4 linked regions of the Homo sapiens genome follow. The protein of the gene in region 2 interacts with the protein of the main gene of each other region in a biochemical or structural test. Each region holds a gene or a part of one and is shown on either strand. Other genes may lie near its edges. The genes, in order: ATM, CHEK2, CDC25C and CDC25A.

Region 1 (7,354 bases), on a different chromosome or scaffold from region 2:
TTTTTATTAAACTATGAATGTCTGTAAACAGAGAAAAAATACATATATTTATGTATATTATACCTACAAATAACTATATCTCAAGAAGTAAAAAGGTAGGGAAAGTCCTTCTCCTATCCATCCATCTAAATTCTACTTAATCTTTCAAGATTAAGTATGTTTCTCTGCCCCGATTCAATCTCACAGAATCTCAAAATTGGGAGGAACTAAAAGACCAGGTCCAATCTTCCTATGAAGGAAGGAATGTCTCTTACAAAATGAATGCCCTGTCTTTGAATATTCTCAGTAAGAGCTGACTACCGGGGCTAGGCGTGGTGGCTCATGCCTGTAATCCCAGCACTCTGGGAGGCCGAGGTGGGCGTTCCACGAGGTCAGGAGTTCGAGACCAGCCAGCCTGGCCAACATCGTGAAACCCCGTCTCTACTAAAAATACAAAAATTAACCAGGTGTGGTAGCATGTGCCTGCAATCCTAGCTACTGGGGAGACTGAGGTAGGAGACTCACTTGAACCCAGGAGGCGGAAAGTGCAGTTAGCTGAGATCACGCAATTGCACTCCAGCATGGGCGACAGAGCGAGACTGTCTCAAAACAAAACAAGACAAAAAAAACAAAAAGAGCTGACTACCCATTTTATTAGCAGATGGCTCTGATTCTCTTCTCCTTTTATATTCACTGGTGGTTCTTCTGACTTCCCCCATCCCCCAACACTATTACAACTTCCGCTTTACTCTGCTATAGATTACAGATTGTTATTTGAGTTCTTTTCATTTGATTATATACTTCCTGTGGACAAGTATTATCATTTTTGTTTTTCCATTCCTTATGGTTTTATCTAGGAATCTTCTTACTTCTTCAATCTCAGTTTAAAGCCCTCTTGAGTCAATAAGGAAAATGAAACTGGTAATCTAACCAATGAAAATACCTTAGCAATATCCAAAGAACCATAAGGTTTGGCACCTTTATTCCTAAATATACTAAAGATTTGACACTTCCCGGAAGAGGCAGCCCTAAACTTGACTTTTTTTTCCCCATGGTGTGACTTCCTTGAACTTGTTTTTCTTACCTTCAGCTTAATGATTACTTTGAAGAAAACAAAACAGTTCAGTATTATCTACATAAACAGAAGATGCTCATTCACTGATAGATGCAAACAATATTTACTACTTATAGCTAGACAAATAATGAACTAAACAGATACAAATCCTACCCTCATGAAGTCATATCTGGGCAGCAGGGTGACAATAAACAAGTAAATTGATAAACCAATGCATAATTCCAAATTGTGATGTATGCCTCTGAGGAAACAAAAACACAGTAATAGAAAATAACTGTAGAGAGAATCATTTTAGATAAACTGTCAGGGAACATATATCTCAGAGGAGTTTATAATAAAGCCAAGATCTGAACTAACTGGTGCCAATCAAAAAAAGGGCTAGAGGACCAACACTTCAGGGAAGGAGACTAGCATAGCCAAAGGGTTCTACAATGTTAAAGAACACAGTATGTTGGCGGAACTGAAAGAAGGCAGAGGAACTATTAGGTAGTCAACTAGAGTATGAGTGTCACCATATAAAGATGAACTTCATTTATACATTAATCCAGAATATCTAGGTTCCACTCAAGGTTCAAACGAAAAGATAAGGATTTCCTACTTCCTACGAGCCTCTGAATTGACGAATTCAGTGTTCCTTTTTAGATCTCAACCAAGTTGACCCCTTTGCACAACTTGACAATGACGCTTATATCCCATCTTCCTAGAAATAACTCTGCCCTTGGCATGCCATTCTTTTCTAGTGCTAAGGAGTGTGGCCTCTGTAGTCAGATTGTATTAGTTCAAATCCTGGTTCAGCCACTTACAAACTGTATAATCTAGAGCAAGTTCACTAATCTCTTCAAACCTCAGTTTCTCAATGATAAAAGGAAAAACAATACTAGTACCTACCTCTATGAGTCCCTTTAAGGACCCATATACATGCTTACAGTGCCTGAAACACAGCAAATGTTAGCAATGATCATATTAACTTCCGTTATGACTGTTTCGAAAGTCTCCTGATATCTCTTCTTCCGCTCATACCTCAAAAACAGCTTTGTTTTCTTGGTCTCATCCATTCCTATGACTTCAGCAGCTGAAAACCCACAAAATATATTTCATTCAATGCCAGGCCTCACGCTGGAGCTTCAGGGTCCTTCTACACTTTGTGCCTTTACACGCATTTTTCCTTCCATCTGGAAGGCTTCTACCATCTGCCAAGGTAACACTGCGAGGTCTCACCACAAACTGAATTGATAGTCTCAGGCTGAGTTTGCAGAGAACCAAAGTCACTCCTCTACCATCAGAGTACTCCCCTATCACCACATACATTATCATCCACTGTAGTTGTCTTATCTGTACCTGGTAAATACAGCAGCTAACGCTCACGAGTGCTCACCACAGGTCAAGATTATCTCACTTATCTTCACAAGACAGTAGAGAGCGGCCACACGACTGACAGAATTCCAATTCCAGCCGTATGATTCCAGAGCCCAAGCTCTTAACCGCGAGGCTGAAGTTGAAATATCAATAAATGCTCGCTGACTAAAAGTACTAAATACGAGAGAGAGATCAAAAGATGACTAGTCAAGTCGCGTAGTTAAATCTGAACCCTAAGGTGACACAAAAAGAGGATGCGCAGGAGGCAGGGTTCAATTCAGGGCGTTTAAAAGGAGGAGGTTATTGGCCAAGTCCGCTAAGCACCCGGAGAGAGGCCAGGAAAGATGGAGTGAGGAGAGGGAGGAGTCAAGGGCCACTCTGGAGGGGTGCATGAGATTGGCGGTCTGGGGAGAGGACAGACTGGGTCGCACACGACTGAATTTCCCAGCGCAGAAGCCGCTGCGTTGCCTCCGCGCCCCTACCACTGCACTCGGAAGGTCAAAGTAGTATCAACCGCGGCGGTGGCTGCAGCGCAGATCCCGACTCCTCTCGCCTCCTCCCGCGGCCACGGCTTCTTTTCTCCGTTAGCCACGCAGCTACCTACTCCCGCTTCCGGTTCAAACCCTGCGTGACTGCCCAGCGCCCACTTCTGGAGGAAGAAGCAACGCCAAGCAGCCGCAGAGCACGGTATGCCCATGCGCATCCAGTATCACGCGGTCTCCGCGCTCAAAACACTGCCCCAAAACATTCGGCCCGTCGGAGCAAACGCGCCTGCGCCATGTCCACCAATGGCCAGCGACTTAGCGTTTGCGGCTCGCCCTTCGGCTCGGGCTCCGGGGCTCTCACCCACCCTCTTCGCCCTCGTCGTCCTCCCCGCCCTCCTCATCCCCGCCCCTCCAAGTCTGAGGACGGAAGTGACGACAGTTCCGAAGGCGAACGGAGGCGGGTTTCATTTCGGCGCCTTTCTTTCTCTGGCGGAAGCGATTGGCTGCCGTGAAGCGAAAGAGGCGGGACAAATTGCCGCGAGTTCAGTGCCGCCACTGGAACCAGGAGATGCGGCGCAGGAGCTGTCGCTGTGTTTGCTTTAACCTGAGTCTTGTTCCTTATTGTGGTTCCTGCTGTGGTTTTGATCATGTTGTTACCCTCGGACGTAGCCCGGCTTGTATTGGGTAAGCGCGGACGCGGGATGGAGGGTTATTGGACCCGGCTATGCTGGACAGAAGGACCTTTGAGGCCAAAGGTTTTCCCTTGGTAGGGAAGCTTTGGGGTTTTGCCTCCCAGCTTACGAGTTGAGACTGGCGGTGATTCTTCGTCATTCGGAGGTTCTGGGCAGTTTAAGCCTCTTTGTATGTAGATGCTCCTCTCTTCAGAGGCTGCGTGGCGAGGGGAAGCCCGAGGGGAAGCTCGGGGTGGAACACCTGGGGCGGATTCGGAAGGAAAGTCAGGCCTCCACACTTAATTAGGACCCCTGAAAGAGCATTTGTCTGCATGACGGACGGATTGCGTGTGCTTCAACCTTGGGCGCAATTTCCTTGGTTCAGTGTTGGGACCAAAATAGGGCAAATAGGGAGTTCCCCGGCCCCCCATCTTTGTAGAGAGACCTTCCTGGCGCCCTTCTAATAACCCGCCCTTATAACTACGAATTTGGGAGTAGGGGTGATCTTCCTTCTCCATCCTCCACGCAATACGTCGTCCAGTGTAGAGGTGTGAAATGCCAGTTGCATATTTTAAAACAGCAATTCCTGTTCCTTTGATCAGCGAAAAATTTCAGAGGGTTAATTGCCTTAAATTAGTTGAACGTTTTCTAGCCCTAGTTTTACCTTCATTTGAGGAGGGATTGTTTGTGGGTCACTTGTCTGTCAGGGTGTATTGTCTGTGTGAGAGACGGGTTTTGTTGTTGTTTGTCCCCTGAAAGAATAAAGAGGATTGTACTACAGGGGACGAGAGCCAGGTAAAGCTCAAAACCCGAGCCAGTAATTTACGGACGTCGTATGCGACGTCCCTAAAAGTAAATGGCAAGCATCTGTGATGAAACCTCCCATAGTATTCACAGCCATTACTACTATTATTTTATTGTTCGGAAAACCCATTTGTCTTGTGCCTCTTTTAAATGCCCAGCGCTGTCCACAAAAATGTTATTTGCGCAGGGCTCTTGATAAGCACATTTTGCAGGAAACGTTAAACGGAAATGGTTCCACCATCCATTTTTGAAGAAACTTAATGACAAGTTTAATGTTTTGTTAATGTCTGATTAATCTTTTGCTTAAGAATTCTGAGTTTTGGCAGTTTGGTAATCTAGTTGAGTTTCGGTAACTATAGTCTTAAACATGGTTTCTCAGCCTCAGTACTGTTAACATTTTGGGCCTCATAATTCTTTATTGTGGGGAGCTATCCTGTGCTCAAACATTGTAGGATGTTTAGCAGCATTCCTGGCTTCTATTCACTAGATTACAGTAGGACACCCGTTCCCCACCCTACCCTTACCCAGTTGTGATCAGTGAAAATGTCTCTAGATATTGCTAGTATGTCCCCTGGAGGGCAGAATCACCCCTAGTTAAGAAAGCCCTAAGAAAGCAGTATCATTTTCTAATTGAAATAATTCACATCGATGTGTGAGTATTCTTTCTCCACAAACCAGCTACTCTGCTGACTTCCTGCTTTTCATTTAATGGACAAAAAACGCCAGCCATGGTTTTCTTATCTTAAAAATCTTTGTCATTCACATTCCATTTTCACTGCCACCAATCCCGCAATGTGCCTGCCATTACTTCTCTTTTGGACTTCTGTCATGGCTTCCCAGACAGTTGTCCTCGCAATTCATTTTATTTACTGTTGTTACAAATCTCCCTGAAGCTTTCACACTATACCTTTTAGTCTGAAAGTTGAGATAATTCTATTCTTACTAAAAATTTCAGATGGGCAGGAGTATACAATACAAAAAAGCCTCCCCATGCCTAATGCTCTTACTTTTGTCGTTTATCATTTTACATCTTAAATAGATACATATCGTGTATATCTTTCTCATATGAGGTTTATTATTTACTCATGATTCTTTTCCTATCAGTACCCCCTCGCCATCTTCAGCTCCTCTTGTTATTGGTCCCTTCATAATGTTTTTTTTCTAGCAAATCTTTGGGTGCCTAGTATGTTCCAAACACTGTGCCAATTGCTGAACATAGAGAAGTTAAGTTTTCTCCCCTTAGTGTTCAGATAATTAGGTTTTTTTTAAATTCTTAAACATACACACAAAAAAACACTTTTCTGGACCCCACTAGACATTAGACACCCATTAAACAGAACATTCTGTCTTATGTTCTGTGTCACCCTTTCACAAGTCAAATTTATTCAAAGAACAATGAATTCCACTTAGTTGCTGTTCTTCACCTACCTTTTATCCTTCAGGATACTGCACTCTGACTTTTGCATCTCACTACTCCACTTAAGTAGCCCTTATTGCCTTGCTGGGATTTTACAAAATGTTGTGTGGGCCAGAATACATCAAAGTGTTTGTTGCCTCTGGGCCATCAGTTCAGTTTTTATCTATTTATTCAAGGTGCTCTGTGGAACTGATCCTACCTACCTCTCCAACTTGATCTCAACTTCCTAACATCTGTTTTATGCTGCAGACATGCCAAACGAATTGAAGTTTCTTTGAAAATTCTTGTATGTATTCTACTTCTCTTTGTCTTCCTAGTACACTTCTATTCAAGGTTCAGGTCATGCCTGATCTCTGAAACTTCATTCAGCAAGTACAGTCAGTACTTCTTAAATGTTGCCATAGCATTGTACTTCTGTTACAACCTTATCATGTCTCATTGTAGATGTGTGTTTACTTTTTTTTGATAAAATATACTAACAAAATTCAACACTTAAAAATGTATAGTTCTTAAAGCCCAAAACAATGAGTTTGTTGTTGTTGTTGTTGTTGTTGTTGTTTGTTTTTAATGTACAGATCAGTAGTGTTAACTATATTGACATTTTTCTGCAACCATCACTACCATCAGTTTCTGGAACTTTTTCATCTTCCCAATTTGAAACTTACTTGGTTTTTTGTTTTATTAGTAGTCTTAGTCATGGATGAATGGACAAGCTTCAAGAGTTCTGGGAGTCCCCAAAACTATCATCTGTGAAGGTTTTCTTGAATAGATTTGTTACCTTCTGTATGAGACAGCATGCAGTAAAAAAAGTAGAAACCATTCTGAGTATTTAACATGGAAAGATTTAATGAGAGAATTCGTTTACACTGGTGAGAGAAAAGCTAAGACGCCCAGCAGCTTACAACTAAGGCATCTCAGTGGTTAGCAACAGTAGGAAGCCACTATGCTAATGAGAAGGATAAGGAGAGAGGAAGCAATCAAGAGGCTGGTTTGACTGCGGAACGTGGAAGACTTGTCTGATGAGGGAGTGGTAGTCTTAGAGGAGACTCTACTGAGGCAGAAAGGGAATGGGGGAAAAATATGGCTGCTTCCTCCTGCCCTCCAGCCTCCCACCAGTGCTTCCTATTTACTGAGCCCAGCCAGTAGCAGGCCGACAGAAGAGCTTGGGGAACATTGCCTATATAGAGTCAAGCTTTATGTCATACAGTAGAGAGCGACAGAAGGGTCAAGAACGTGTTTGAGGTCAAACAGGACCAAAACTGACACACCCCTAACAGGTCAAGAGCTGCTGGTTCTATTCACCTTTATATCACCAAAACATAGATATTTAATAAAACATTTGCAAAAGTATGGCTCTGATTATGACACTCCTTTGTTTATTTAATAATATATGTACTCATTGCTGTCTAAAACTTTTCATGATCCTTACCCATTTTGTCTTTTCTGTTGTATCTCCAACTGTTACCCTTCATAAACCTTGTGCTGCATCCAAACTGGACATGTTCCCCAAATATGATTGCATATATACTTTCTGTCAGCTTCTTTGGGATTCCCAACCATCCTTCAG
Region 2 (7,627 bases):
AGCTTCTGCACAGCCAAGGAAACAATCAACAAAGTGAAGAGACAACCCACAGAATGGGAAAAAACATTTCCAAACTAGCCATCTGACAAGGGATGAATAACCAGAATATATAAGGAGATGAAACTCAACTGCAGAAAGACAAATAATCCAATTTAAGAAATGGGCAAGCCAGGCACGGTGCCTCACATCTGTAATCCCAGCACTTTGGGAGGCCAAGGTGGGTGAATCATCTGAGGTCAGGAGTTCAAGACCAGCCTGGTCAACATGGCAAAACCACATCTCTACTAAAAATACAAAAAATTAGCTGGGCATGGTGGCCCGTGCCTGTAATCCCAGCTACTTGGTAGGCTGAGACACGAGAATCACTTGAACTCAGGAGACGGAGACGGAGGTTGCAGTGAGCCGAGATCGCACCACTGCACTCGAGGCTAGGTGACAGAGTGAGATTCTGTCTCAAAAAAAAGAAATGGGCAAAAGATCCGAAAAGACATTTCTCGAAAGAAGACATACAAATGGCCAACAGGTATATTAAAAAAATGCTCAACATCACTGATCACTGGAGAAATATAAATCAAAACTACAGTGAGGCCCGGGTGCAGTGGCTCATGCCTGTAATCCCAGCACTTTGGGAGGCGGAGGCGGGCAGATCACTTGGGGTCAGGAGTTTGAGACCAGCCTGGCCAACATGGTGAAACCTGTCTCCACTAAAAATATGAAAATTAGCTGGGCATGGTGGCAGGCGTCTATAATCCCAGCTACTTGGGAGGCTGAGGCAGGAGAATCTCTTGAACCCGGGAGGCAGAGGAGGCAGTGAGCCAAAATCGCGCCACTGCATTCCAGCCTGGGCGACAGAGTAAGACTCTGTCTCAAACAAACAAACAAACAAAAAAACCCACAATGAGATACCATCTCACCCAAGTTAAAATGGTTTGTATAAAAGATAGGCAAAACAGATGCTGGAAAGAATGTGCAGAAAGGGGAACTGTATAGAGTGCTCTTGACATAAGTAATTTTATCTTAGAAAAAGGCTCTATCTTATATTTTAAAAGGCATTATGCCAACAGGGACCAGATGTTTGTCTAATTAATAAAGACTGTACTGGCCATGTACAGTGGCTCACGCCTGTAATCTCAGCACTTTGGGAGGCCAAGGCGGGCGGATCACAAGGTCAGGAGATGGAGACCATCCTGGTCGACATGGTGAAACCCCAACTCTACTAAAAATACGAAACTTAGCTGGGCATGGTGGCGCGTGCCTGTAGTCCCAGCTACTCGGGAGGCTGAGGCAGGCGAATCGCTTGAACCAGGGAGTCGGAGGTTGCAGTGAGCCGAGATCGCACCACTGCACTCCAGCCTGGTGACAAAGCGAGACTCTGTCTCAAAAAAAACACTGTACTAAACCAGATAAGGATATAAATATGTACACGCTTTTGTTATTAGTCCTCACAAGAAAATTCTTTGGTCATAAGAGCAGGACTTTATTAGGTCAAAATGGCTGTCCTAACAGACACCATCTTGCTGTCACTCATGATTAACACCCAGTATCCGCCATCAAAGGCTCTGCCCGCATCAAAAACTCTTCCTTACAAGACACTGACACCCCAGATAAAGCCAAAACACTCTCTTTGTCCACATTGCTCTCCTTGGACTGGTTTGATAACCACTTTCCCTATCCCCTTTTCTCCGAATGTTAAATGTTACTTTAATGTAAGATTTTTAATCTATAACATTTACATATTAAATAAATATACTATTGTGTACGGTTTACAATACTGACTGACTTGTGGAATGGCTTGAGCCTGTGTGCCCATGGCTCTGACCACCAAGTAAACAGGGAGTACTACGGAAAATTGCTTCCTTGGGAACTCCATATAGCTCGTGGCTTTTACAATTAAAATAAAACATCAATAAGTCTGATCTTGTGGAAAGACACAAATGTGCATGGACCTGGTTATGTCTGACCTTGCACTGTTCACATACACCACTGGTGGGAATGCAAATTAGTATAGCCACTATAGAGAAGAGTATTGTGATTCCTCAAAAAATTGAAAATAGGCCGGGCGCGGTGGCTCACACCTGTAATCCCAGCACTTTGGGAGGCCAAGGCAGGTGGATCACCTGAGGTCAGGAGTTCGGGATCAGCCTGGCCAACATGGTGAAACCTCGTCTCTACTAAAAATACTAGCCGGGCATGGTGGCGGGTACCTATAATCCCAGATACTTAGGAGGCTGAGGCAGGAGAATCGCTTGAACCCAGGAGGCAGAAGTTGCAGTGAGCCCAGATCGCGCCACTGCACTCCAGCCTGGCAACAGAGAGAGACTCCGTCTCAAAAAAAAAAAAAAAAAAAAAAAAGGTACAGATGGTAATCATATATGTATACTTTATATCAAAAATAAATAATTTTTTTTAAAAATTCCAGAGGTCTTTCAAGTGAAACACAATATTTTTTTCAAGCAGAAAACCTAAGTCCGAAGGAGGACTGATGCCCTCCTACCCACTTCTGGCCACCCTATCCCATACATTTACTTAGGGACTTATTTAGGGACACGCAGAACATCCTCCTACACAGCTCAGTGCGTTTCCAGTCCCTGCAGCGCCCAGTAGCTAAGACTGGCTTCTCTATAAGTATTTTATAGATTGAACCTAAAGAATGGCAACGATTTCTAACATCTATAGAATTTTTACGAAGTCACTTCGCTCTGATATTGAAGAATACAACGCTGTTCTTCTTATCCTGTATGTTCAGGCCTGTTTCAGCTTGCAAGTAATACGGGAAGTGAACTTCACCTCGAGGATGATCTACTGAAAAGGAAGAGAGTCGCCCACACACTCCCCCTTCAGCTCAAAACTACAGACAAAGCGAAGCTCAGGAGACTCCGTTCGCACAAAACGCTTAAGATGGGATTCGAACCACCAAACACCCAACAGAAGTTCCCCATATGACTCACCGCGTGAGCCCACCTGGAGCCGCACACTCTCCGCAGCCTCAGCCAGCAGAGTGGCGCTAAACCTGCAGATACAAACTCCACCCTCAGCCAATCAAAACCCCCTCCCCTGCCGCCGGACCAATGAGGAGCAGCAGATGTGGCCGTCAGGCGCCGCCTCAATGCCTCCTGGGAGTTGTAGTTTAGAAGGGAGAGCGGAACTTAGAACCCGGGTTCCCCTCGGGTGATCCCGCCCCCTCGACTCCCCAGCCAATCAGCAACATTAGTCTGGTTAGACGCTCTCTTTGCTTTTCCCCACGAGTGACCACGGCTAGATAGGCCGCCGGCCAGATGTGGCGGGGGAGAGCCGGGGCTTTGCTCCGGGTGTGGGGGTTTTGGCCGACAGGGGTTCCCAGAAGGAGACCGCTAAGCTGCGATGCTGCGTCGCAGGCGGGAAGCAATTATCCCCGCTGTTGGAACTGCGGCGGCCCATGGGGCCCCGGGCGGGAGGACAGGTTCTTCTGCCCACAGTGCCGAGCGCTGCAGGCACCTGACCCCACTCGAGACTACTTCAGCCTTATGGACTGGTACGAGCGACGGTTTCGGGAAACGGGCCCGGGCGAGAGACACGTCGAGGTCTGGCCTGCGAGAGGGGAGGACGGATCTGGCTGGCGGAAGAGAAGGCGGGACTGATGGGGGGGCGGAGGTCTAGAGAGCAGGCGTGAGAGAAGTGTCTTGATTTCTCAGGAGGAAATTGAGAGGCGGGGACTGAGGGAAGCAACGTTGAGGTGTGGAGAAGGGAGACGAACGGGACTGGAGGGGCGGGCGCTGAAGTTAGAGGAAATAGGGGGGCCGAGGCTAGAGGGGAGGGAGATTTGAGGGGCGGTACCTACGGGAAAGGGAAGGAGAAGTCGAGGGGCGGAACTTGAGGAAAGGGTACTTGAGGGGCAGGGCCTGGGAGACTGGAAGACTTGAATGAATAGGGTGAGTAAGGTTTAAAGTTGGGTTGATGTATTTAAGAAAGGACTGCAGAAGTGTGATCCGAGATTAGGGAGTAAAGCATGAAAAGCTTAATATTGTGGGCGAGGCCTGAGGGAAAAGTGAGAATTGGAGGGAGAGGGTCCAATAAATGGTTTTTCCCCCTGAGACTGAGGTTCTTGGAGAGACGGGGCAGTGTGGATAGAGCTGAACTGGTAAGGAAATAGGACAGACTCTGGGAGTAGAATGTGAAAGGGGCTGAATTAAAATAAACCGGGAGAGACAGGGATGAAGGGACCTGGGCCGTGGAAAAGTTAGGGTGGTATTAAAGAAAACATGATTCAGTCACACTTGTTCAAGCACCAGAAAGACTTTCTTCAAGACCATCTTGTAGAGGGGCCACTGCAATAGGGTCTTGCAGTTGGGGAGAGAGATTGGTCTCAACTCCAAAAAGGGCATGGGCAGAAGGAAATTTGTAGCCAAGGAGCAGAGTAAACGGGATTCTGGCTAAGCCGACCTAACGGGATTCTTGCTGAAGACAGGCCAGGCTGCTTAGACACCACCTGGGGGATAGTAGAGGATGAAGAATCTGATCAGAGATCTAGGATGATCAAAAATATGAGGATCGAGGATTCTAGCTAAACTGACTTGGCAAGATTATTTGCCAAAACTGTATTTTACAAGAAAGCATACATCTGGGCCTAGGAGAAGGTTCAGAAATCTGACTAAAGTTTGGCCAGGCAAAGAATCTTTGTCTGTGTAATTTAGGAATGTCCCTTTTCCTTAACTATGGGATCTTCCCCACCAGTCACTGAACATGTATGAGGGGCTACAGTAACGCTGATCTTTAAGTTCCTCAGGCATCCCCATCTTGCTCCCACCTCGAGGTCCTTGCTCTTGCAATTCTACCTGGACGTCTCTTTCCTCTGATCTTTGATTACTCATCATCATTCAGGTTTCAGCTGAGTGTCATCTCTTTGTCCACTACATCTGCTACACTCTCTGACTCTGTTCTGTGTCCCTTCATAGGACTTACCACTTTTTGAAATTAACTGCTTATATGTTATTGCATCTTCCCCATAAGAGCAAGAACCAGGCTCATGGTAGATAAACCTTTAAATATTTGTTGTATAAATTTAATCTCCCAATTTCCTTCCAGCAACCGTTCCTTCAGAGTTGATACAGCGAAGCTCCAGCACAGGTACCAGCAACTGCAGCGTCTTGTCCACCCAGATTTCTTCAGCCAGAGGTCTCAGGTAGCTTATTGGCCAACCCCAATAATCCCCAAATATGTGTGCACACTGGGTGGCAGTAGCCTTGTGGTTATGTGATTATCAGGGACTGAGCTGGAAAATCAGCTGTGTCTGCCCCATGGCAGTCTGACCCCAGCCTGTCAGACCCAGAGCTGCCATTCACTCACAGCTTTTGTCTGACTTCCCAGATAACTTAAAACCTATCAGCTGAATATAAAGACACCTCATCCCACACCAGCTCTACTTAACCACTTCCTTAGGTGCCTGCCCATTAGAATATTATAAAACTTTGTGGGCCTGGCACAGTGACTCACGCCTGTAATCCCAACACTTTGGGAGGCCGAGGCAGGCAGATCACTTGAAGTCAGGAGTTCAAGACCAGCCTGGCCAACAGGGTGAAACCCTGTCTCTACTAAAAATATAAAAATTAGCCCAGTGCAGTGACACATGCTTGTAGTCCCAGCTTCTTGGGAGGCTAAGGCAGGAGGATCACTTGAACGTGGGAGGTGGAGGTTGCAGTGAGCTGAGTTCGCGCCACTGCACACTCCAGCCTGGATGACTCAACGTCAAAACAAAAACAAAAACAAAAAAACTTTGTGATTTGGATGGTAATAGTACTATCTTCATCTCCACTAACAGACTGAAAAGGACTTCTCAGAGAAGCATTCGACCCTGGTGAATGATGCCTATAAGACCCTCCTGGCCCCCCTGAGCAGAGGACTGTACCTTGTAAGGTGATTTCCCAACACTTCTGTGTATGACGTCCTGATGCCCATTATGGCGTAGGACAGCCACGTCCCCTTTATTCAGCAGAAGAGTGCTTGAGGTCAGGCATGGTGGCTCACACCTGTAATCCCAGAACTTTCAGAGGCTGAGGTGGTCAGATCACTTCAGCCCAGGAGTTCAAGACCATCCTGGGCAACATGATGACACCCCATTTCTACAAAAAATACAAAAATTAGCTGGGCATGTTGGCATACACCTGTAGTCCCAGCTACTCTGGAAGCTGAAGCAGGAGGATCACTTGAGCCTGAGAGGTCAAGGCTGCAGTGAGCTGTGATTGTACTACTGCACCCTCTCAAAAAAAAAAAAAAAAAGTCCAGGGACCCAATAGTATTTAGCCTCAGAGCACAAGTATAATTTTCTCTGTGAATATTACTTGCCTCAACTGCATTTTTTAAATTGTGATTTTCTAGCTTTTTTCTGTGAATTTCAAGGATTTGATGATGGTAGCTTTTAGTTAAGAGTCATTTTCTGTTTTGTTTTTTTTTCCTCTCCAGAGTATCTTAAGAGGCCAGGCATGGTGGCTCACGCCTGTAATCCCAGCACTTTGGGAGGCCGAGGCGGGTGGATCACGAGGTCAGGAGTTCAAGACCAGCCTGGTCAAGATGGTGAAACCCCGCCTCTACCAAAAATACAAAAAAATTAGCCGGGCATGGTGGCGGGTGCCTGTAATCCCAGCTACTCGGGAGGCTGAGGCAGAGAATTGCTTCCCCAGGAGGCAGAGGTTGCAGTGAGCTGAGATCACACCACTGCACTCCAGCCTGGGCGACAGAGTGAGACTTCATCTCAAAAAAAAAAAAGTATCTTACAATCTAGAAAATTTTATAATTGAATAGAATCTTTACAAACATCTAGTTCAACCTCTGAGTGGAGGAATGACTACCCCAAGATCACACCAAGGTCACATAGTTTTGGGTAGCATGAGTGGAAATCCCATTCCAGCATTTCTGTTTCAGTCCAAGCTTTTGATACCCCTTAGTCTTTCATTATCGGGACAGTTGCAGTTTTCTCTATTAGTGGTATTATTTCCTAATGGATGAGTAGGATTTACATTACTCTGCCCATAGCTTCTTCAACTTATTTTTCTTGCTTTCTACCCCAATAGCTAAAGCTCCATGGAATAGAGATTCCTGAAAGGACAGATTATGAAATGGACAGGCAATTCCTCATAGAAATAATGGAAATCAATGAAAAACTCGCAGAAGCTGAAAGTGAAGCTGCCATGAAAGAGATTGAATCCATTGTCAAAGGTGAAAGATAAAATAGCACTGAATGTATTTCATTGCTGTTATGAACACTTGTCCAAGGATTAGTGAAAAATGAACGTAGAGTATATAATGGCCCGGGTGCAGTGGCTCACGCCTATAATCCCAGCACTTTGGGAGGCCAAGGCAAGTGGATCACCTGAGGTCAGGAGTTCAAGATCAGCCTGGCCAACATGGTAAAACCCTGTCTCTACTGAAAATACAAAAATTAGCCGGGCGTGGTGGCGGGTGCCTGTAGTCCCAGCTACTCGGGAGGCTGAGGCAGGAGAATGGCGTGAACCCGAGAGGCAGAGATTGCAGTAAGCGGAGATCAGGCCACTGCACTCCAGCCTGGGCGACAGAGCGAGACTCCATCTCAAAAAAAAAAAAAAAAAAAAAAGGTTATTTATTTTAAGGAATTAGCTCACATAATTGTGGGAGCTGA
Region 3 (7,031 bases), on a different chromosome or scaffold from region 2:
TGATCAACTTTATCTTCATAGGATAGAATATGTTAAAATAGCTTTCCCTCAGGGTTGAGATTAGAAATAATAATCCAAATCTCTGGAGTCCATGGTCTATGAAAGGCAAGTCAATGCCTGGGTAAGTTAAGACCCCAGTATTATAAGGGCACAAAAGACACTAGAGAAATTACGCATGGATAATAATCACATGAAATCACTACTAATTATTATTATTATTTTATTTTATTTTTTGATACAGAGACATGCTTTGTCGCCCAGGCTGGAGTGCAGTGGCGCGATCTTGGCTCACTGCAAGCTCCGCCTCCCGGGTTCACGCCATTCTCCTACTTCAGCCTCCGGAGTAGCTGGGACTACAGGCGCCCGCCACCACGACTGGCTAATTTTTTGTACTTTTAGTAGAGACAGGGTTTCACCATGTTAGCCAGGATGGTCTCGATCTCCTGACCTTGTGATCCGCCTGCCTCGGCCTCCCAAAGTGATGGGATTACAGGCGTGAGCCACAGCACCCGGCCTATAATTATTATTATTTGAGACAGAGTCTCGCTCTGTCGCCCAGGCTGGAGTGCAGTGGTGCAGTCTCGGCTTACTGAAACCTCTGCCTCCTGGGTTCAACTGATTCTCCTGCCTCAGCGTCTTGGGTAGCTGGGATTACAGATGCCTGCCACCACGCCCGGCTAATTTTTTTTTTTTTTTTTTTTTTTTTTTGAGATGGAGTCTCGCTCTGTCGCCCAGACTGGAGTACAGTGGCACGATCTCGGCTCACTGCAAGCTCCGCCTCCCGGGTTCACGCCATTCTCCTGCCTCAGCCTCCAGAGTAGCTGGGACTACAGGCACCCGCCACCATGCCCGGCTAATTTTTTCTATTTTTAGTAGAGACGGGGTTTCACCATGTTAGCCAGAATGGTCTCGATCTCCTGACCTCGTGATCCGCCCACCTCGGCCTCCCAAAGTGCTGGAATTACAGGCGTGAGCCACCGCGCCCGGCCCTGGCTAATTTTCATATTTTTTTTTCAGTAGAGATGGGGTTTCACCATGTTGCCCAGGCTAGTCTGGAACTCCTGACCTCAAGTGATCAGCCTGCCTCAGCCTCCCAAAGTGCTGGGATTACAGGTGTGAGCCACTGCACCCAGCCACTACTAATTATTTTTATTTTTATTTTTTTTTCCTTTTTTTTTTGAGACAGTCTCACTTTGTCACCTGTCCATTCACTGCACTGGAGTGCAGTGGTGTAATCTCAGCTCATTGCAACCTCTGCCTCCCAGGTTCAAGCCATTCTTGTTTCTCAGCCAGGTGCCACCACGCCTGGCTAATTTTTGTATTTTTAGTAGAGACAGGGTTTTGCCATGTTGGCCAAGCTGGTCTCAAATCCTGGCCTCAGGTGATCCACCTGCCTCAGCCTCCCAAAGCGGTGGGATTACAGGCATGAGCCACCATGCCTGGCCTGCTAATTATTTTTAACATAAAATAAACTATTTTACCATGTATGTATGTGTGTGTGTATTATTTATTTGAGACTGAGTCTCCATCTCAGCTGACTGCAGCCCCAGACTCCTGTGCTCAAGCAATCCTCCCAATTATAACTCACTGGAGCCTCAGGCTCTTGGGCCGAGGCGATCCTCTTGCCTTGGCCTCCAGAGTACCTGAGACTACAGGCATGCACCACCAAGTCCCAGCCATTTCTTTTTTTTGGTTGGGGGGTGGGGTAGAGATGTGGTCTTGCTGTGTTCCCCAGCTAGGGAACTCAAAGTCCTGGACTCAAGCAATCCTCTCACCTCAGCCTCCCAGAGTGCTGGGATTACAGGGATGAGCCACAACATCTGGCCTAATTAGCATTTTCCCTCAAACTAGACTGCTCAGCAGAAAGTAATTTTTTAAAAAATTCCATGAGAAGTCCAGGTATGGTGGCTCATGCCTGTAATCCCAGCACTTTGGGAGGCCGAGGTGGGTGGATCACAAGGTCAGGAGTTCAAATCAGCCTGGCCAATATGGTGAAACCCCGTCTCTACTAAAAATACAAAAATTAGCTGGGCGTGGTGCCACACGCCTGTAGTCCCAGCTGCTCAGGAGGCTGAGGCAAGAGAATCTCTTGAACCCGGGAGGCAGAGGTTGCAGTGAGCTGAGATTGTCCCACTGCACTCCAGCCTGGACAACAGAGCAAGATTCCATCTCAAAAAAAAAAAAAAAACAAATTCCATGAGAAGACTGGGCAGGGTGGCTCACACCTGTAATCCTAGCATTTTGGGAGGCTGAGGCAAGTGGATTGCCTGAGCTCAGAAGTTCAAGACCAGCCTGGGCAAGATGGTGAAACCCCATCTCTACTAAAATACAAAAAATTAGCTGGGCGTGGCAGCATGCGCCTGTAGTTCCAGCTACTCAGGAGGCTGAGACAGGAGAATTGCTTGAACCAGGGAGGCAGCGGTTGCAGTGAGCTGAGACTGCGCCACTGCACTCCAGCCTGGGTGACAGAGTGAGACTCTGTCTCAAAATAAATAAATAAATAAATAAGTAAATTCTATGAGATTTGGATTGCTAATGAAAATGTAAATTCTTGTAACTTTTTTAGAAATGAATCGGAGAAAGTATCAAAACCTTAAGGCTTGAGCCCAGGAGTTCAAGATTTGCCTAGGCAACATAGTGAGACCCTTATTTCTAGGGAGAGGAAAAAAAAAAACTTTAAAAATATTGATGCTGTCGGGCATGGTGGCTCACGGCTGTAATCCCAGCACTTTGGGGGGCAGAGGAGGGCAGACTACGAGGTCAGGAGATCAAGACCATCCTGGTCAACATGGTGAAACCCTGTCTCTACTAAAAATACAAAAATTAGCTGGGTGTGGTGGCACGCACCTGTAATCCCAGCTACGTGGGAGGCTGAGGCAGGAAAATCGCTTGAACCCAGGAGGTAGAGGTTGCAGTGAGCCGAGATTGCACCACTGCACTCCACCCTGGGGAACAAGAGCAAAACTCTGTCTCACCAAAAAAAAAGAAAAAAAAGTGATTATAGGCCAGGCAGTGGCTCACACCTGTAATCTCAGCCCTTTGAGAGGCCGAGGCAGGTGGATCACTTGAGGTCAGGAGTTTGAGACCAGCTTGGCCAATAAGACAAAACCCCGTCTCTACTAAAAACACAAAAATTAGCTGGGCCGTGGTGGCACGTGCCTACAGTCTCAGCTATTTGGCAGGCTGAGGAACAAGAATCACTTGAACCCGGGAGGCAGAGGTTGTAGTGAGCTGAGATTGCACCACTGCACTCCAGCCTGGGCGATGGAGCGAGACTCAGTTTCAAAAATAAATGAATAAAAAGTGATTATAAATGGAGATTAGAAGGACAGTATTAAATCAAGAAAAAACTGATAAGAACAGCCGAAAACATGAGTTTATCTTAAGTCAATGTAAGAAAAGAAGAGCAGCTATCTTTTATGGTAATGATTTGGGGAAAGGGATGGGAGGCAGGGAAGAAAAAACGATGTCTAGAAAAGGGGCTTAGATGAGGGATTAGATACAGAACTATCTTAGTGATGAGGTGGCTCCGGAGAGGCTAGATTTAACTTGGAACGACGGATGGCCTAAGGTTTAGATAAAAAGTACCATGGCCTCCTCGGAATAAGGGCTTAAAAGCTAGACTAAGGGGGAAATAAGAAATTAATCTACACTTGCATGTAAAGTGGTAAAAAAAAATCCATGAACAAGTTATGCAAGTTATCCCTACCTGTTAAAACAAACAAACAAACAAACAAAAAACTCCTAAATCCCTTACACTACAGTAAGGGTAATTTTTGTCCTCAAAATGATCAACTGAACATGAGAAATAATGATGACCTACTGTGGAAGATTTGGAGCTGGGTGTCTGTCCTAGGGCCAAACTTTAATAAGAAAAAACAAAAACAAAGAAATTTTCTCCCCTATAGTAATACAGTTTCCTTGTCTAGCATACGAGGTATAAACAGTTCTATGTCTCATTATGATACCAAGTTTCTTCACTCAAAAAATAAAACTGCCAATATATCTAGGTTTCCATTAAACACTCACATTTTCTTTATTTGCAGATGAACTACACATTGCATCTCTCTTTCTATGGCCACGGTCCAAACCATTCGGAGTGCTACAAAGAAGCTGTGCCTAAAAAAGAGAGTTTGCTGAGAACGTCCAGCATCCTCAAGCCACAGGTGCAATGGAAACCCTCTGCCTCCCACCTGAAAAGCAAAACAAAACCCAAAAAAAGAGAGGCTACTCACTGGGCTACATTTCATTAGGTGCTGGTCATGATTCCTGCAGATTAAAACAAACTGCCTGTCAGGTTAGTCCCAAATACTGTTTGATTATTCTTCAGTGGATTGGTGCATCCCAACATTTTTCTATTTCATTCTAGGAGCCCTATTCCTAGTTGATATGTCTCTTCCAACAACAATACATAGGGTATTCTCTGTGGTAAATATCAAGACTCAAGTGACATCCTGGGGATAAGACCCTCATTTTGCCTGCATAACCATATAACATGTTCCAAAGATGAACGAGTTTTATACAATTTACAATTTACTAATTTTCCAGCACAGTGTATTGGGGCTAATTTTTTTTTTTTGAGACGGAATCTGGCTCTGTCACTCAGGCTGGAGTGGCACGACCTCGGCTCACAGCAAGCTCTGCCTCCCGGTTTCACGCCATTCTCCTGCCTCAGCCTCCTGAGTAGCTGGGACTACAGGCGCCTGCAACCACATTCAGCTAATTTTTTGTATTTTTAGTAGAGATGGGGTTTCACCGTGTTAGCCAGGACGGTCTTGATCTCCTGACCTCGTGATCCGCCCGCCTCAGCCTCCCAAACTTCTGGGATTACAGATGTGAGCCACCGCACCCGGCCGGGGCTAACTTTTTAAAAAAATTTAATTTCTGGCGGGGCGCTGTGGCCCACGCCTGTAATCCCAGCACTTTGGGAGTTCGAGGCAGGCGGATCACCTGAGGTTGGGAGTTCGCAACCAGCCTGACCAACACAGAGAAACCCGTCTCTACTAAAAATACAAAATTAGCCAGGCATGGTGGCGCATGCCTGTAATCCCAGCTACTTGGGAGCCTGAGGCAGGAGAATCGCTTGAACCCGGGAGGGAGAGGTTGTGGTGAGCCGAGATCGCGCCATTGCACTTAAGCCTAGGCAACAAGAGCAAAACTCCGTCTCAAAAAAAAAAAAAAAAAAAAAAGGCTGGGCGCGGGGGCTCACGCTTGTAATTCCAGCACTTTGGGAGGCCAAGGCGGGCGGATCACGAGGTCAAGAGATAGAGACCGTCCTGGCCAACATGGTGAAACCCTGTCTCTACTAAAAATACAAAAATTAGCTGGGCGTCGTGGCATGTGCCTGTAGTCCCAGCCTCTCAGGAGTCCGAGGCAGGAGAATCACTTGAACCCGGGAGGCGGAGGTTGTAGTGAGCCAAAATCGCACCACTGCACTCCATCCTGGCAACAGAGCGAGACTCCATCTCAAAAAAAAAAAAAAATTAATTTCTATCCTCCCTCCATGGATTTCATTATCTATCTGGGTTAGAGCATTTAAAGCAATTCAAGCTGGGCCCAGTGACTCACATCTGTAATCCCAGGACTTTGGGAGGCCAAGGGGTGGGTGGGGGTGGGGCGCTGATCACTTGAGGTCAGGAGTTCAAGACCAGCCTGGCCAACATGGTGAAGCCTCCATTTTTGTATTACTAAAATACAAAAATTAGCCGGGCGTGGTGGTGGACGCCTGTAATCCCAGCTACTCGGGAGGCTGAGGCAGGAGAATCGCTTGAACCCAGGGAGGCAGAGGTTGCAGTAAGTCAAGATGGCACCACTGCACTCCATCCTTGGCAACAGAGCCAGACTCCATCTCAAAAATAAAAATAAATACATAAGTAAAATGCTTGGTATGTGCTAGATACACAGTTTATTTACTCCTTACAATAGCTACTTTATGAGAAATGCTATTATTGTCTCCACGTTACAAATAAAAAAAATTAAGGTCCAATGAAGTTAAAAAAAACTTGTCAGAGTCACAACTGGTGAATGAAGTAGTAAGCCAGGAATCCACACACTGATTCCAGAGCTTATACTCTGTACTTTCTTTTTTTTTTTTTTTCTGAGACGGAGTCTCGCTCTGTCGCCCAGGCTGGAGGGCAGTGGCGCAGTCTTGGCTCACTGCAACCTCCGCCTCCTGGGCTCAAGTAATTCTCCTACCTCAACCTCCGAAGTAGCTGCGATTACAGGCATGTGCCACCACATCCAGCTAATTTTTGTATTTTTAGTAGAGACGGGGTTTCACCATGTTGGGCAGGCTGGTCTTGAACTGCTGACCTCAACTGATCCGCCTGCCTTGGCCTCCCAAAGTGCTGGGATTACAGATGTAAGCCACCGTGTCCGGCCACTCTGTACTTTCAATTACTAAGATACAGCACCTTTCACATACAAATAAAAGCCTATACATAAGTGTAGTATACCATTTTCCTTCATTTCCTTATAGATACTTCTGATTATGATGGTTAAAATGAATAGCCTTCATTTTCACAACACTATTTAGATGTGGAAAACTTAGAAACTGTTCAAGGTAAGGAACTAGGCCTCAAAGCCCACTTATACCCAGTATGAAAGGTTTTGTACTCTGCAGAGTCTGCACAGGATAAAATCTCTATGACCAGTGCTAAAAGGCTTTTGTGTGGGGTTCATTTAACAACAGAACTTACATCCCAGCTAAATGCACTTCCTGAAGTCCTGAAGAATCCAGGTGACCTGCAATCAAATATAAAGAATCAGTAAAAGGAGTTATTCTTGTCCATGCATCCTGTTTTTCCTTCAGATTTTCTTCATTACCAGTAAGCCGTATTAATTTCAAGGACTGAGCTTTTGAATACAAAGCCTCTCGATTGGTACCCATTTCATGGTACAAGGTACAATTTCACAGAAACGTAAGAATTTATATGTGTCACTAAAAGAAATCAAGTGTTGGGAAACACTACACTATGCTACCTATGGAGTTTTTTTTTTTCTTATGGGTAGAAAAGAAAGGTTATCACTCA
Region 4 (7,031 bases), on a different chromosome or scaffold from region 2:
TTTTTTTTGAGATGAAATCTCACTCTATCACCCAGGCTGGAGTGCAGTGGCGTGATCTCTGCTCACTGCAACCTCCATTTCCCGGGTTCAAGCGATTCTCCTGCCTCAGCCTCCTGAGCAGCTGGGATTACAGGCTCATACCACCACACCCAGCTATTTTTTGTATTTTCAGTAGAGACAGGGTTTCACCATATTGGCCAGGCTGGTATGGAACTCCTGACCTCGTGATCCACCCGCCTTGTCCTCCCAAAGTGCTGGGATTACAGGAGTGAACCACAGCACTCAGCCAGAATATTATTAAATATTGATAGATATTTTCTGACATGTATACAATGTAAAGTTTCACAAATGTTCTTGCCCTTATAACCCAGAATTTCATTTTTAATTAGAAATAAAAGGAAAATCAGGGGAAGGGAAATTCTAAATGTCCAGAAGGTGATTTATTCAATTATTTCTAGTATACTTGTAAGTCAAAACACTATCGGCCAGGTGCACTGGCCTGTGCCTGTAGTCCCAGATACTTTGGAGGCTGAGGTGGGAGGACTGCTTGAGCCCAGGAATTCAAGGCCAGCCTGGGCAACACAGTAAGACCTCTTTTCTACAAAAAATAAAAAAAAATTTTTTTTAAATTAACTGGGCATGGTGGTGCATGCCTGTAGTCCCAGCTGCTAGGGGGGCTGAGGCGGGAGGAGTGCTTGAGCCCATGGAGGCTGTACTGAGCTGTGATCGTGCTAGTGCACTCCAGCCTGAGTGACAGCGCTAGACCCTGTGCCCCCCACAAACAAAAAGAACAAAAACCAAAACCAAACAACTCTCCCAAAACAAAAATACTATGCAATTATTAAAATATTCTTTTAGAACAATACTTTAAAAACATTCATAAAGCATTAAAAACAAAAGCAGATACGATAAGGCAGTAGGCCTAAATGCTAAATGTTTTCCTAGCTGTCATCTCTCTAACCTTTTAAGACTGTGATGAGATTTACTTAAACCTTTTCATGCCACAGAAAACACAGGTAGTTCACCATTTTATAATGCTTAATACCAAACCTCAATATAAGGACAGTATAATGAAGGAAAAACATACAAATAAACCAGTGTTTTGTGTGTCTAGCCACAGAATAAATAGAAAAAATAACACAAAGGACCATAGGACTTAGGCCCAGACAACCATGACACTAGCTCACCCATGCCAGGTGCTGTGTCTAACACCTATGATCCTGGCACTTTGGGAGGCCAAGGCGGGAGGATTGCCCTGAGCCCAGGAGTTTGAGACCAGCCTGCGCAACATGGCGAAAGCCTGTCTCTACAAAAAATACAAAAATTAGCTGGGTTTGGTGGCACACACCTATAGTCCCAGCTGCTTGAGAGCCTGAGGTGGGAGGACTGCTTGAGCCTGGGAGGTGGAGAGTGCAGTGAGCGGAGATCATGCCACTGCACTCCAGCCTGGGTGACAGAGAGACCCTGTCTCAGAAACAGGAAACAACAAAACAGCCTATACAACTATGAGCAATGCAATGAATTAACTTGAAGAATTAGACAGACAGGGCTGGGCGCAGTGGCTCACGCCTGTAATTCCAGCACTTTAGGAGGCTGAGGCGGGCGGATCACAAGGTCAGGAGATGGAGACCATCCTAGCTAACACTGTGAAACCCCGTCTCTACTAAAAATACAAAAAATTAGCCAGGCGTGGTGGCGGGGTCCTGTAGTCCCAGCTACTGGGAGGCTGAAGCAGGAGAATGGCATGAACCCGGGAGGCAGAGCTTGCAGTGAGCTGAGATCGCGCCACTGCACTCCAGCCTGGGCGACAGAGCGTCTCAAAAAAAAAAAAAAAAAAGACAGACCTTTATAAAAATCAAGTATTTAATAGGCCATGATAGGTCTGGATTAAAAGGAAATAAAATATCTACAACAAATGATAATAAAAACATTTCAGGTCAAAAGTTATGAGACAAATCTAAAGCAGTGGGAAATTCATAGATTCAAATAGATTTATCCAGAAATAAGAAAATTAAAAACGAATGAGTTAACCATTCAACTCATGAAGCTGGAGACAGCAACACAACAAGCCCCAAGAAAAGCCTGCTCTCCCTAGGCAAAGGATGGCCTATTGAGGCAGAAGACTTTTAGACAATAATCATTCTACTAGTCAACACAGAAACAATTATGGCCAACAGCAAGCGGGGGCCTCCACCTTTGCCCAGCTGTCATACAGTGCCCCAGTCACCACCCCACGGGGATGGAATGAACTTCCACTCCCTCCCAGCAATAATGAGACAAGTCCCCACCCAAGGTGTCAATGGAGTTTGTGCTGGGGAACCCGGACTTCCACCCATGCCTTTCTTGCAGTATCAGAGGAAGCCTGCTAAAACGTAAAATTTACATAGACCGGAGACTCACAAATATACAGGAGACAATGGAAGAATCACCGGTCATACCAAGAACCAGAAAAATCCCAACTTGAACAGGAAAAGACAATCAACAGATGCCAACAACACTATGGATGGATGTTGGATTTGTCTTACAAAGATTTTAAAGCAGCCATCTTAAAAATGCTTCAACAGGCAATTATGAACATACTCAAAGCAAATGAAAAACCAACATGAAAACAGCCAAGTATCAGCCAGGTGTGGTGGCTCACACTTGTAATCCCAGTGCTTTGGGAGGCCAAGGCAGGAGGATCACTTGAGGCTAGGAGTTCAGGACCAGCGTGGGCAACATCGCTAGATCCCATCTCTATTAAAAGAAACACACACACACCCACACACACACACAACCCCACAAAACCCCAGCAAATCTTAGCAAAGAAAATAAATGAACCACTAAGTAGAAATTTTTAGAACTGAAAAATACAGTATCTGTGCTAGAGCAAAAAGGAACCTAGGAAACTAACCTCATGGGCCTTCTCTGGATTAGTTGACTCTTTGGGGCTGGCCCCAGACATGCTCTTCCTCCTCTTTGTACTTCCAGGTGGAGACTCCTCTTGAGATCGTTCTGGTCTCTTCAACACTGACCGAGTGCTGGAGCTACACAGGGAAGGGGAGTCAAACAGCTTGCATCGGTTGTCCTTACAGGAAAAAAAACAGACAGACCCATCTTTCATTAAAACCTGTTCACTTGAATGGTAAGACAAATAAACCGAAGGTTTCCTGGGATGATCTAAGATCAATTCTAAATTAGCCAACAGACACTGCCGATTCATCTAGTCCTAGCAACTCTCACAGGGCCTGGCACATAGTAGGCACTGAGCACTTAGTGCTCAATGAATATATACTCAGCTGACATTATATAGAGATGAGCAAAACGTCCTTTGCCCTCACAAAAACTGTCTACATAATCCTGCGTCAAGAGAAGTGTGACCTTCCAGTCAGGAACACATTTTTGGCTTGCCTATCTTCCCCTCCATTTTATTACTTGCACCTTGCTTAATTAAGCAGGTCAACGGGTTTAAATACCCCACTTAAATCCAGAAAAGATGCACAGTAGCCAGGTTATAATAAAAATGGGGGCATCTTTGGTTAAGGTATAGTTAAGATGGTAAATTTGGAGGGAGTGGGGATGGGCAGAGTAGCAAATGCCTTTCAAAATTGTGTTCAAAGTCTTTTTTTCTACTTGGTCTTTTAAAGACTAATTTCCCAGGCTGGGCGCGGTGGCTCACGCCTGTAATCCCAACACTGTGGGATCACTTGAGGTCACAAGTTCAATAACAGCCTGGCCAACATGAAGAAACCCCATCTCTATTAAAAATACAAAAAAATTAGCCAGGTGTGGTGGTGCGTGCCTTTAATCCCAGCTACCCAGGAGGCTGAGGCACGAGAATCACTTGAAACCAGGAGGTGGTGGTTGCAGTGAGCTAAGATTTGCACCACTGCACTCCAGCCTGGGTGACAGAGCAAGACTCTGTCTCAATAAATAAATAAATAAATAAAGACAAATTTTCCAGAGCCCAAGGGAAGCCAATCTGACCAGTGGTAGCAAGAGTCAGCTCTCTAAACGCATCTCAGCCTATTCTCGACTCCATGTGTCTTGGCCTGGCTTTTCCTTCTGCACAGAATGTCCTTTCACATCTCAGTAAACCATTCATTTTCAAGTTGATGCTAACATTTCAATGTCACTTCTTTGAAATCTTCCTGATAGTCCCCAGTAGAATGGATCACTCCCACATCTGCTCCCATAGAGACCGGGGATTTTCTTCCTCTTTTGTGTGAAGTTTATTTTCCATTACAGCTCCCAGCAATGGTTAGTTTGTAATAACCATTTGTGGAAGACATTTCCCCACTATTAAGAGCTTACAAGCCCATGCTTATGACTCTAAAATCAAATCTATAAAACTAACAGCCACTTCCAAAGTGTTCTCACATTTTATGTAATTTTATGCCTATCAAAATGACCTGGTAAATTTACTCATAACATTTGTACTGCGTTAACATATTTTCTCAAAAGCTATGCACATGAATGTACTATAATCCATAAGTGATCTCAAAACTGTAGCTTGGCTGGGCACGGTGGCTCATGCCTGTAATCCCAGCACTTTGGGAGGCAGGTGGATGGATCACCTGAGGTCAAGAGTTCGAGACCAGCCTGGCCAACATAGTGAAACCTCGTCTCTACTAAAAATACCAAAAAAATTAGCCGGGAGTGGTGGCGTAAGCCTGTAGTCCCAGCTACTCAGAAGGCTGAGCCAGAAGAAGCACTTGAACCCAGGAGGCAGAGGTTGCAGCAAGTCAAGACTACACCACTGCACTGCACCCCAGCCTGGGCAACAGAGGGAGACTCTGTCTCAAAAACAAAACAAAACAAACAAACAAAAAAACTGTAGCTCATTTGTTCTGTAATTATAGTTCAGGTTATTGAGAATTAAAAAATATGAACTTATCAATTTAGATGTGTACCTAAGGGTGTATATCTCTGAACATACAGGTGTATATATCTGTATAGGCACATTCTTGCTTCTAACTTTGAAAGTATCCCTATGATGAAAACACGAATCTATAGCATGTGTATGTGTGTGTATATATATGTGATTTTGAATATATATACACACATACACTATAGATTCTGTATCTACATATACTATGCTTTCTGTTTGAAAGTATCCCTGATGGAAACACAAATCTATACTGTGTATGTGTGTGTGTGAGTATATATATATATATATATATATATATAAAATATATATTATATATAATTTTTAAAATCGAAAATATCTACCTGAAAATACCCAGCCTCAGGTAGGTATTTTCAATGAAAAACAAAACAAAACAAAACAAACAAACAAAACAGCAACAAAAAACATCCAGCCAGGCACAGTGGCTCATGCCTGTAATCCCAGCACTTTGGGAGGTCGAGGTGGGCAGATCACCTGAGGTCAGGAGATCGAGACTAGCCTGGCCAACATAATGTAACCCCGTCTCTACTGAAAATACAAAGATTAGCTGGGTGTGGTGGCAGGCACCTGTAATCCCAGCTACTCGGGAGGCTGAGGCAGGAGAATCACTTGAACCTGGGAGGCAGAGGTTGCAGTGAGCCAAGATTGTGCCACTGCACTCTAGAATGGGCAACAAGAGCGAGACTCCGTCTCAAAAAAAAAAACAAAAAACACAGAAACAAAAAAAATCCTGTGAGTTACTGTTGCTTGTCTAATTTTATGCTAGGTTCTGTGGAATATAAATGAGAATAACCTAAAAAAAGTAAAGTATTCAGGCTAAAGGCTTCAGATAGGCTTTTTTCAAACTGACTAGATGGTAAAAGCTAGGAATGACCATGGTCCCTCCTAACCCACACTCCTTATACATCAGGAGACATGCAGAGAGATATCATGACTAAAGGTCATAATTTGTAGGTAGCCAAAGTGAGGCCTAAAACCCAGATCCCCAAATCCTATCATGCATTTCAATCTTTGGCTATACTCAACTAAGGACTACTCTGTCCAGTGCCCCAATCACGCAGGGCTTCCTCCAGACACACTAGAACAACTCACAAGGTTTGTAGTTCTCATGACGAGAGGAGCTGTCCAGAGGCTTGCCATGCACGAGGGGGTCTCCTCCTCATTCTAAAGAAACAGAAAAACTGATTTTAAAAAGAGCCTGTAGAGACTAACATTTGTTTAAGTGCTTTAGGTGTGTTTCTCCCTGAACAATACCAGATAGGCCTGGATAGGAAGTATCCTTAATGTACCATCCTATACCGTTCTGATTTCATGTTTCTTGCATATAGATTGTTAGTTAGCTCCTTCAGGGTAAGAAGGATCATGTGTCTTCTTTTGATGCCCCCATCCCCCAATCCAAAGGATTTAATAAGGCTGGTAGCCCTATTATTAAATGAATTATCACCAAATGAACAAAAATATCAGCTAAGCAAGCCCCGGGGAACTGCTGTTGCTGTTCTTTTTCACATCACATGCCTTCTCCAGAGGTAATTAATTAGTAGAACAAATAGGAACACACACACACACACACGGTACCTTCAGATTCTCTCCATCGAGAAGGTCCACGAAGCCATCATCCTCATCAGACAAAGTGGCTGTCACAGGTGACTGGGGTGTAAAAAGAGGAATGAAATTCCCTGGTTCACTGCTATCTCTTTCATTTGAGGAAAGCTGTAAGACAAAATTCATGGATTAATAATGAGAGCTCTGATCCACTTTCATTTCCTTGAATGGGTCACTAGTTTTTATGATGAAAACATACTATGTTATACTTGTTATACAAAGCAAAATTTTAGCCATTACTGATTATATGAAAATGTATCCCAAGATTATAAATGATTTGATGACCACACACAGCCCTGAGTAGTCAGTAGCCTTTACAGAGAACTCTTGCCAGAAGCAATTCACCTTATAATGGGTACTAGAGATAGCCTCTTGTGAAGAACAAGGTTTCTTTTATTAGAAGGTTGCATCAGTGAACACCGATCAGCATTGAGGACTGTGACAGTATGAGAATCTGCTGAAATGAGTTAGGGCAAGCAGATGCAAATCTCTATAAAGACCATAAAATGGCCTAGAGAATGCACTTATATATAACTCCAGT

Evidence for each region.
Region 1: of the proteins of CHEK2 (region 2) and ATM, one has a biochemical effect on the other in vitro, tested with the Homo sapiens proteins (6 studies listed by BioGRID, with this or other methods).
Region 3: of the proteins of CHEK2 (region 2) and CDC25C, one has a biochemical effect on the other in vitro, tested with the Homo sapiens proteins (14 studies listed by BioGRID).
Region 4: of the proteins of CHEK2 (region 2) and CDC25A, one has a biochemical effect on the other in vitro, tested with the Homo sapiens proteins (5 studies listed by BioGRID, with this or other methods).

What each region holds. Positions count from the first base shown.
Region 1 is NC_000011.10:108,218,725-108,226,078, reverse strand, and holds the start of ATM (serine-protein kinase ATM), read right to left. Parts: upstream 3,013-7,354; 5' UTR 2,893-3,012; exon of another isoform or gene 1,943-2,892; intron 1,296-1,942; exon of another isoform or gene 505-1,295; intron 1-504. Other genes in the region: protein NPAT, read left to right, coding at 3,543-3,579.
Region 2 is NC_000022.11:28,738,821-28,746,447, forward strand, and holds the start of CHEK2 (serine/threonine-protein kinase Chk2), read right to left. Parts: upstream 3,001-7,627; 5' UTR 2,949-3,000; intron 7-2,948; exon of another isoform or gene 1-6. Other genes in the region: iron-sulfur cluster co-chaperone protein HscB isoform 1 precursor, read left to right, coding at 3,276-3,511, 5,062-5,158, 5,795-5,884, 7,044-7,188. UniProt on the Homo sapiens protein: Serine/threonine-protein kinase which is required for checkpoint-mediated cell cycle arrest, activation of DNA repair and apoptosis in response to the presence of DNA double-strand breaks.
Region 3 is NC_000005.10:138,321,786-138,328,816, forward strand, and holds part of CDC25C (M-phase inducer phosphatase 3), read right to left. Parts: intron 6,745-7,031; coding exon 6,699-6,744; intron 4,270-6,698; coding exon 4,236-4,269; intron 4,120-4,235; coding exon 4,030-4,119; intron 1-4,029. UniProt on the Homo sapiens protein: Functions as a dosage-dependent inducer in mitotic control. Tyrosine protein phosphatase required for progression of the cell cycle. When phosphorylated, highly effective in activating G2 cells into prophase.
Region 4 is NC_000003.12:48,171,391-48,178,421, forward strand, and holds part of CDC25A (M-phase inducer phosphatase 1), read right to left. Parts: intron 6,599-7,031; coding exon 6,464-6,598; intron 6,053-6,463; coding exon 5,981-6,052; intron 3,068-5,980; coding exon 2,894-3,067; intron 1-2,893. UniProt on the Homo sapiens protein: Tyrosine protein phosphatase which functions as a dosage-dependent inducer of mitotic progression. Directly dephosphorylates CDK1 and stimulates its kinase activity. Also dephosphorylates CDK2 in complex with cyclin-E, in vitro.